2 separate regions of the Homo sapiens genome follow, and region 1 is linked to region 2. Evidence: fine-mapped expression QTL. Tissue or cell type: whole blood. Region 2 holds a variant in brackets; the other region holds the start of a gene. All regions are shown on one strand. Distances are between the middles of the regions.

Region 1 (4,279 bases), 91 kb before region 2:
AGGCTTGCTTGGTGACTCATTTAAGGAGTAACCCTATTTTATGTATCAGAGTAGTCTATGGTGTGATATAGCATATTGCTGCTTTTGATGTTTGGTTTCATTTGTTCCCTGTAGGCACCTAATCACTGTTTTTTAAATTCCCCAGGAGATTCTGGTATACCCAATCAGCTGAGAACCACTGAATAGTGGCTTTCAAAATTTTGAGCATCCAAATATTGTCTTCACAGAAAATCTTAATCTCTGAAGTCTACTGTAAAAACATAGAAAGGCAAGGCTGTTCTGCTTGAAGCGTAGCTTGGGAGCCTAGATTCCTCTCAAACCCAGGCCACTCCTGGGAACATGGTCTGGAGATTTGAATGTTCCCAAATCTAGTTTATCTCATTAGTCGATATTTATGCACATCCTCTGTGTCTCTCAGTGTTCTCTCATGTGTAGACATATGCCCCATTCCAAAGAGTGACTGTAGTGTAATGTGGCATTAAAGGAACCCTGGATAGACCTGTATTGGACCTTACATATTAGAGAGCTCTGCAGATAGCTCACAAATCTCCAAGTCGCTAGCTGTAAATTGAGTGATAATTGGTGTCAGGTTATTTTAGCACAGTTTGGGGATAAAATGGTGCATTAATCTCCCAGTTTGTGGCTTATTAAACTTTGAAATGGAATTATTTGAGACATAAAAGAGATAGCAATACTTTGCTGGATGTTCTCCATTAGTCGAGATTGTTACAGAGGAGAAATTTTTGCCACTGTTTATCAAATATTTTTTCCTCTAGTTAATCCATATCATTCCGGGAGCTTTGCCCAGGAAAAGGACGAATTACTTGCGTTCCTCCGATCTCTTTCAAGTTCTACTCCCGTACCTTTAAACTGTCACACGGAATCTTTGGTGACAGAGGAATAGAGGTGGGCAAGCAGGGCGTTTGGAAACCATACTGAAAACGAATTATCCATAAAGCACAGATTCACCAGCCTAGAAATGGCTCTGTCTGGATGGATTCCTTGAGATGTGTTTTATCTCCATTAAAAACACAACAACTTTCAAACTTTCACTGTGTCTCAAAATGATAGAGAAAAAAATTCAGCCTTTCAAGTATTCAAGAAAAGCTTGAAGAAATAAAAGAAACTCGCTGCTCTCTGGGCCACTTTAGGAGGCAGAGCGTTCCTGGAGAACTTCAGGATTCATTCGCAAGGGAACCCAAGGTGGGCATTCAAAGCCGATCCAAAGGATATTCTTCTTTTTAGAAAACAAAAGGAGCGCAAGGAGTAGGGGACTGAAGGTGCCCAAAGCTAGTGGGTCAGTGTCACTTTCTTCCTCCCTTTCGCCCCTTTCCTCCCGCTCCTTTCTCCCCTGTGGTCTCTGCTCAGCACCCCTTTCTCTCCAGCCCCGACTGCCCATCTTCGCCCCTACCCTCGCGCGTCGGGGCCGTGTCTACACCCACCCCAGGACCTGGTCCGTCCAGGCTCCTTCCCATCCTCACACCCGCGCCTTTCTCCCTGCGGCCCCGGCTCGCTGCTCCAGCTGCCCAGCTCTTCCCAGGACAGGGGATCCCGCCAAGGGGGCCGCCCCCGCCCCGGCCCTCCCCCGCCCGGCCGCACCATAAAGCGCCCGGCCGCTGCCGCGGAGCCCAGCAGCCAGCTCCCCAGCACCGCACGGCGGGGACGCGAGCGCGCCCCCGACGGCAGCCCGGACGCCGAGCACGGGTCACCTGCGGCGCCGGCCCGGGCGCCGACCGAGGTTCAACGCACGGCCCGGGGACCCCCAGGCGGGGCCAACGCCGCCGTCGCCCCCGGCCTCGCGGGGAGCAGGAAGAGCCAACATGCTGGCCCCGCGCGGAGCCGCCGTCCTCCTGCTGCACCTGGTCCTGCAGCGGTGGCTAGCGGCAGGCGCCCAGGCCACCCCCCAGGGTAAGTGGGTTCGGGTCGGGCCTGGGAGCGCCGGGCACCGGGTGCCCCATCTGCTGAGTGAGTGGAGGGACTTGCTCGGCCCTGTGCTCCTGTGGCCTTGCTCAGCCCCTCTCTGTCCCTCCCGGGCCCAATCAAAGCATATTGTGATTGGAGGTAGTGATTAGTCTAGAATTTTCCGAAATTCGATTATCCAATGATGAGAACAATTGCCTAAATAGTTGGGGGATGCAAAATTGTTTCAGACTATGCAAAGATGTGGGGTGGGGTTGCCTTCAAAACTTGCTACACGGTCCTAGACCTCTTAACATGTTAGGCTCTGGTGTAGGGTGAATTCCGGGTCCTGCACCCTGTGCCGGTTCCCTCCAGGCAGCCTTGCTCCCTAAATCCTTCCTCAGGCGGAGCGATGTATGCCCAGAGTCTGCTCTTGACATCCCTGAGAAAGACGCAGAATTACTCTACTTGCCCTGCCACCTGCATTTTCTGCTCTGACTTTGCTTGAACGACAAAAAGAAAGTTTATTTCAAGGATTGGCTTGATGTCTTAATTTCTGAGGTAAATAGGAAGGGCTGAGAAACTGGTCTTTTTCAATGAAATCAGTTCTTTGCAGCAAGATGGATGCAGCTGGAGGCCATTTTCCTAAGTGGATTAAGGCAGGAACAGAAAAGCAAATACCATGTTCTCACAAGCGGGAGCTAAGCAGTGGATAGATATGGACATAAAGATGGAAACAGTAGACACTGGGGACTCCAAAAGTAGGGGGGAAGGTTGGGAAAACTACCAATTGGGTACTACGTTCACTGGGTGATGTGTTCACTAGAAGCTCAAATCCCACCTTATGCAATGCACCCATGTAACAAACTTGCACATGTACCCTCTGAATCTATAATTTAAAAAGAAAAAAGAAAGAAATTGATCTTTTTCTATGAAACGGTAAAAATTCAACAAATAATGTGAAAAGATACTTGGACAATCCTCAAACCCCTTGGTGAAATGGGGTGAAATAGCCATTGGGTAGAAAGCAGTTAAACAGAATTTTTTGTAAAGACCAAAAGGAAGACATGATTTAAGCAAAGAAAGATCTTAGGGCTATAACTGGCCCTAACTGGTCAGGCGTGAGCTTCATCTGTTTGAACTTGGTGCCTGGGTTGATTTATTACTGACTGTGGAAGTAAAACTGGAAGAGACGCACAACTTGAAGTAAAAGTTGTTTTTCCTCTTGTAGCCAGAGCAAAGACTGCCTATGAGGGCGTTCTCAACTTCCCTGCCTCTCGCTGCTGGAATCACCCATTTAAACTGCATTTCGCCAAATAACTCATTTTCATTCCAGACCAGACAACCAGAACTGTGGTTTCAGGGGTTAGAGTACTGCTAACTTTTAGTTTGTGTTGAAGTATTTGAAATGCTGTAGTCCGTGCCCCATACTTCTAGGAAGGTAAAAAAGGAAGCTTTTAAACACTTCAAAAGTCTTATTGTGATGATATTTGGCAAGTTCAAATTTATAGGTATAATTTTTTTGTGTTATATACGTTCTTGACTTTTGAACATACAGCTTTATGGTGTGCCTTAGGTATGTCTCAGACATACCTGACCATTTTATGGAGATTTGAACTCGGCCTATACAACCTAAATTATCTGGGTAATTTAGTTGCTGTAGATGATCTGATTAAGTTAAGTTTCTGATAGATTCTTTTATTGCATTATCTAGTCTGCAATTATCAGGCTTAACAGGATAATTTGATTATCTCCTTCTTCCCCTGAGCTTCATTGTTGGTCTTAAATTAGTATATATTCAATTTACATACCATGGTAGCTGCGCTCATTGGTAGCAGTAATTTCACCTCTAACAGTAGAGGGTTGTGCTTTGATCCTGGCACTTAAACGTAATAACATTAATAGAAAATGGTAGTGTCTCATTTCCTTTTCAAAACACTCTCTATGTTCATTACTAACTAATCCCATCTCTGCCGCTTGAGAGAGATGCAAATGAATCAGACGAACCATAGATTGAAATACCGCAAGTTTAGCTTGAGTTACATCATGAACCTGATCATAGTCAAAGGAAGAATCAAGAGTACTAAGAATTTTGTTTTGAATGTAGTTCCCATACTTTAAATACATATCTCTTTTCTGAAGATGTTTTGTCCTGAATGGAACTTTAAAACATATTGCCTTATTTCCCTTTGCCCTCATTAGTGGAAATGTAAAGTTTCCAATTCTCTTGAAAATTAAAAAATCCAATTTCCCTTTTGAAATGCAGTAGGCAACAGTGTTTATGGTTTAGGGATATAGGCACTAAGAGGAGCACAGTAAATGTTCTGCTTTCCAACACATCTCATGTTAATTTCATTATTGTGTAAGGACCCCTGGTACA
Region 2 (4,174 bases):
GAGAAGAGGGATGGTTCCAACCAAAAAAGGTAGGGGGATGGACATCCCAATAGGGGTCCACTCCATTCCTGATGGCACAGTGAGACAGTTGTCATGTGTCACGTGCTAGACTCTTGACTCTGTGCCTCCCAGTACCTGCTACTGACCAACATGGTCTAGTGAGCGATTTTTCTTGTGAAGGCATCCATCCATTCATTCATTCATATAGCAAACAATTGTACATCACAACCTTATGCTAGGTGCTAGGTATACAATGATAAAACAAACACAAAAACCAAAACCACAATCTCTACCCTCAATGTGAGGAGATACCACCACATAAACGAACAATTACAATACTGTGAAACATGTTATGCTCAATCTATGGCCTAAATCAGATGAGAGGCTGGGCAGAGGATCAGGCTGCCAAGAAATGCTTCCTAGAGGGCATGCTGCCCGAAATGAACCTTGAAAATCAGGGAGCTTGATAGAAATAGGGAAAGAGAGAGTGTTTCAGGCAGAAGCAAGGTTCACTGTCAAGGAAAGGCATTTCAGGAAACCAAAAGTAGTATCTGTTTGACATGAGCTATATTGGAGTGAGAGTACTGGGAGGTAGGCTAGAAAGGGGAACAGAGACTAGATATGAAGGAACTTGAAAGCCGTAAGTATATGAAGAAGGCAATGGGCTTTCTACACAGGAATGACCTTGAAGACTTGATTTGCATTATTGAAAGCTCACCATGGCTGGAATGGATTGGGGACGTCCGATGATGGGAAGACTCAGCTGGGCAGTTGCTGCATTAACTGTGGAGTTATAATGGTGACCTACGAGAGCAGCTTTGGATACGGAGAAGAGCAAACTGGTTTAAGAAACGTCATCACCTGGGTCAAGAAAAGGACATGCAGTGGGTTGGGTAGGGAGGAAAATAGATGTAAATAAAGTTATTAGTTGAAAAAGAAAAGCAAGATCGAGAGAGAAATTAATTCTATTGCCATCTATTCATGAGAATCACAAGGCTGAATCAAAAGCCTTCCTGCAAACCTAGACTCACGCTGGTTCAGTTCAGAGACTCTATCAGAAAGATGAGGAGCTCATGAGTCATCCATCAATGTGATCTTGTGATTTTTCTTGTGACCACAAGACAAAGGAAGAGAAGAGTACTTTGGAGTCATTATGATGAAAATTCAGTTGAATACACTGGAAAGTCAAAACGAGAGGAGAAGGAGGAACCGAAAATCTGATTCAGTCTTGACCACCAAGTAGAATTGGGACAGAAACAATTAAGTAGGCACAGATCCAATTTGGATTATAAAAAGCTGGTTCATCAGGAAGGCCACTATAAAACCAGAAGCAAACGAAGAGTCAATTAAGTACAAAAGTTTTTACTATGACTATGCAGTGAGGTCCAAACTGTACTAAATTTGAAGTTCCCTGCCAAAGAGAAATGTAAGCTTCCCTGGTGGTATAAGTCAGAATTTCATGACATCAGCCAGATAACCACAAAAGAATATATCTTTTAGTGCTAGATGCTTCTAAGCCTTTCTCCACCCAACTAACCAACATTCACTTACTGATTTACTTATTTCTTTAACAAACACACTCCATTTCATAGCCACATTCTTTCAAAGCTGACAGGTTGAGATATATCTAAAACACAAAATCTCCAACATACATTTTCTTCTTCAATGTTGTGAGATGTATTTTTCTAAAACACTGTTCTGCACATACTACCATTCCAATATTAAAAACAAGTTAGTTATCCACTGCCTTTTTTGTACAAATGAAATTCATAAATTTTAATTTGGTTACAAAAAAATTTTTCATCAAAATTTTTGCTTATTTGTTTATATAAAAATGGAGACAGGGTCTCACTATGTTGCCCAGGCTGGCCTCAAACTCCTAAGCTCAAGTGATCTTCCCACCTTGACCTCCCAAAGTGATAGGATTACAGGCATGCGATACCAAGCCTGGTATAATTTAAATTTTTAATTAAAAATTGTTAATTTGTCTACAAAATAAATATATACTCATCATCAAAAACTTTCAAAGAAGAAGATTAAAATCACCATAATTCCAACACCCAGACACAATCACAATCACTTCTGTAAGTTAGGATATACTGACAGCCTATGTGACAGGGAAAAAACTAAGTTGTAAGAATTTTTTAAAAACCTCCTATTCCCCATTACAGTAGATTTTATTACTCAAAATATTTGCTGCCCCACCCTGGGGAAGATAATACTTCCCCA[C/T]TTCATTGCATCAGCCTTAGAGATGTGGTTTGAGGTGTCCCTTCTTGTGGGAGGATTACATATTCTCATCTCCTTGACCTCAAGAGTGGCCATGAGACTTGCTTTGACCAATGCAATGATAACAGAAGTGATGTGTGCCACTTCGAAGCAGAAGCTCTGATTCATCATATGGTTCTACTATGTTCGTTCTCTCTTCCATGAAACCAGCAATATCCCAAATACAGACTGCTGGTCCCAGGATGGAAAACTTAGAGCAAAGCTACCGGTAGCCCACAATGTGAGCAAGAACTGAACTTTAGTCATTGTAAGCCACTGAGGGTTTTGGAGTTGCTTGTTACCACAGCATAACTTAGCCGACACTGACTGATACCACCTACCTCCAAAATGTCATCTGAGTTTTCTTTATGTCTGAAGAGAGCCTTTATGCATTGAAATAAATACTCCCTTTAATTTCAACTTATATTTTATATATTTAAATTATATGTTTTAAAACTTAATTTTGAAGACTTTAAACTTGTGTTAATTTATAAATCAGTTTTGTTAATATTTTATTATCTACTTTTATTTGGTTTTGATGAATGCCCAACTGGCTTGTAAATTTGATAAGGTACTCCCAAATATTTATCAAACTTTCAGAATTAAGTTTTAGACATTTCAAACTACAATCTAATTTTAATTGATTTCTCAAGGAAAAAAACAACAAAGCAGACTCACATTTCTATAGGCAAAATCTTAATAAACACTGAAAACATACTGAACTTAAAAAGTTTAACCTTACAAATTTAATAAATTATAAATTTAAAGATTTAACAATTTAAACATTTGAACATTATTTCAAACTTAGTTATCAACATCTTATAAATTTTTACTAATATTTTGAGTCTAATGAATCAGTCTCTTTACTTACCTTAAAAAGCAGAAAAATATACACAAAATACTATAATGGTTACAAAACTTATTTCTAGATAAAATTTATGACTAGACATAACTTAGCTTGTCTTCCAAGGGTCTTTGAAAGTATGTTTGTTTTCTGGCAATAAGAAGATATTTCCAGACTCATCTTGATATTTCCTGCCGTAAAACATGCAATGAATTTTTCTCCAGGGAGCCCAGTGCCCTCAGGGTCTTCTGGCTGGAATGCAGATTAGATGGATTGGCAAAGCAGCTGCTGGGGCCACAAGGGGAAACCAGAAATCCACAGTAATCTTTGACCTGACGTCCTTGAGCTGCTGAACCAACATCCCAGGTTTTTAAGTCCCTGTGGTCCATTTGTCAAATGCAATTCCTTACTGATATAATGGTTATACAAATAAAGAAGCCCAGAGAAAGCACTGCATATGGAAAGGAAAGATTGACCTAAAGGGGAAGATCTTGTGGGGAGGGGAGGCAGTGAAGAAAAGAGGAGGCAGGAAAGGGAACTGGGGAGAGAGGGGAGATCTGGCAGTTTCTGTGAAAGCAAATTAGTAAGGATTTTAAGAAAAGTTTGCCTTTATTCCATTGCCATAATGGGGATTAGAACAGTAACATCCATAGGATCATTGTGAGAATTATGCCAAGCACACATTAAGTGTTCAATAAACATTGGCTATCATTATTATTTTATTATGCTGGGCCTCCAGAATGGATTAGAGTTGCAGACTGGAACATTATAAGGAAATCCAGGAAGTCCATTCATTCTTACTCTTTCCCTCCCTCTCCTCTCTTCCACAATTGCTCCTCTGCACAGCTGTTTTAATCCTATATCTTTCTGCAGATTGGCTTTCTTTCTATGTCTGTGATGCTTAAAACAGTCACTAACAACATCTTTCAAGTTTCCAAACTCCTTGGTTCAAGACAGCAGCCATTTCGAAGAAATTTCCAGAAAGACACTGATTGTCCAGCTTAGATGGAAAGTCCACTCTTGGATCAATTAACTGAAGCTATGACAGGAGAGTTGTATGGAAAA

The links. PIP is the estimated chance that this variant, and not a neighbour inherited with it, causes the effect.
Region 1: THBS4 starts here. The variant in region 2 is the best candidate, but not a certain one, in a credible set for the expression of THBS4 in whole blood (TOPMed, PIP 0.72).

What each region holds. Positions count from the first base shown.
Region 1 is chr5:80,033,718-80,037,996 of GRCh38, forward strand. It overlaps THBS4 (thrombospondin 4), which reads left to right and starts at 1,631. Exons shown (of 22, transcript NM_003248.6): 1 at 1,631-1,908. The coding sequence starts at 1,821.
Region 2 is chr5:80,124,941-80,129,114 of GRCh38, forward strand. It overlaps a transcript of SERINC5 not described here. Among named protein-coding and RNA genes, the nearest start is that of THBS4-AS1, 43 kb to the left of the region's middle. The variant C/T (reference allele first, on the strand shown) is at 2,230.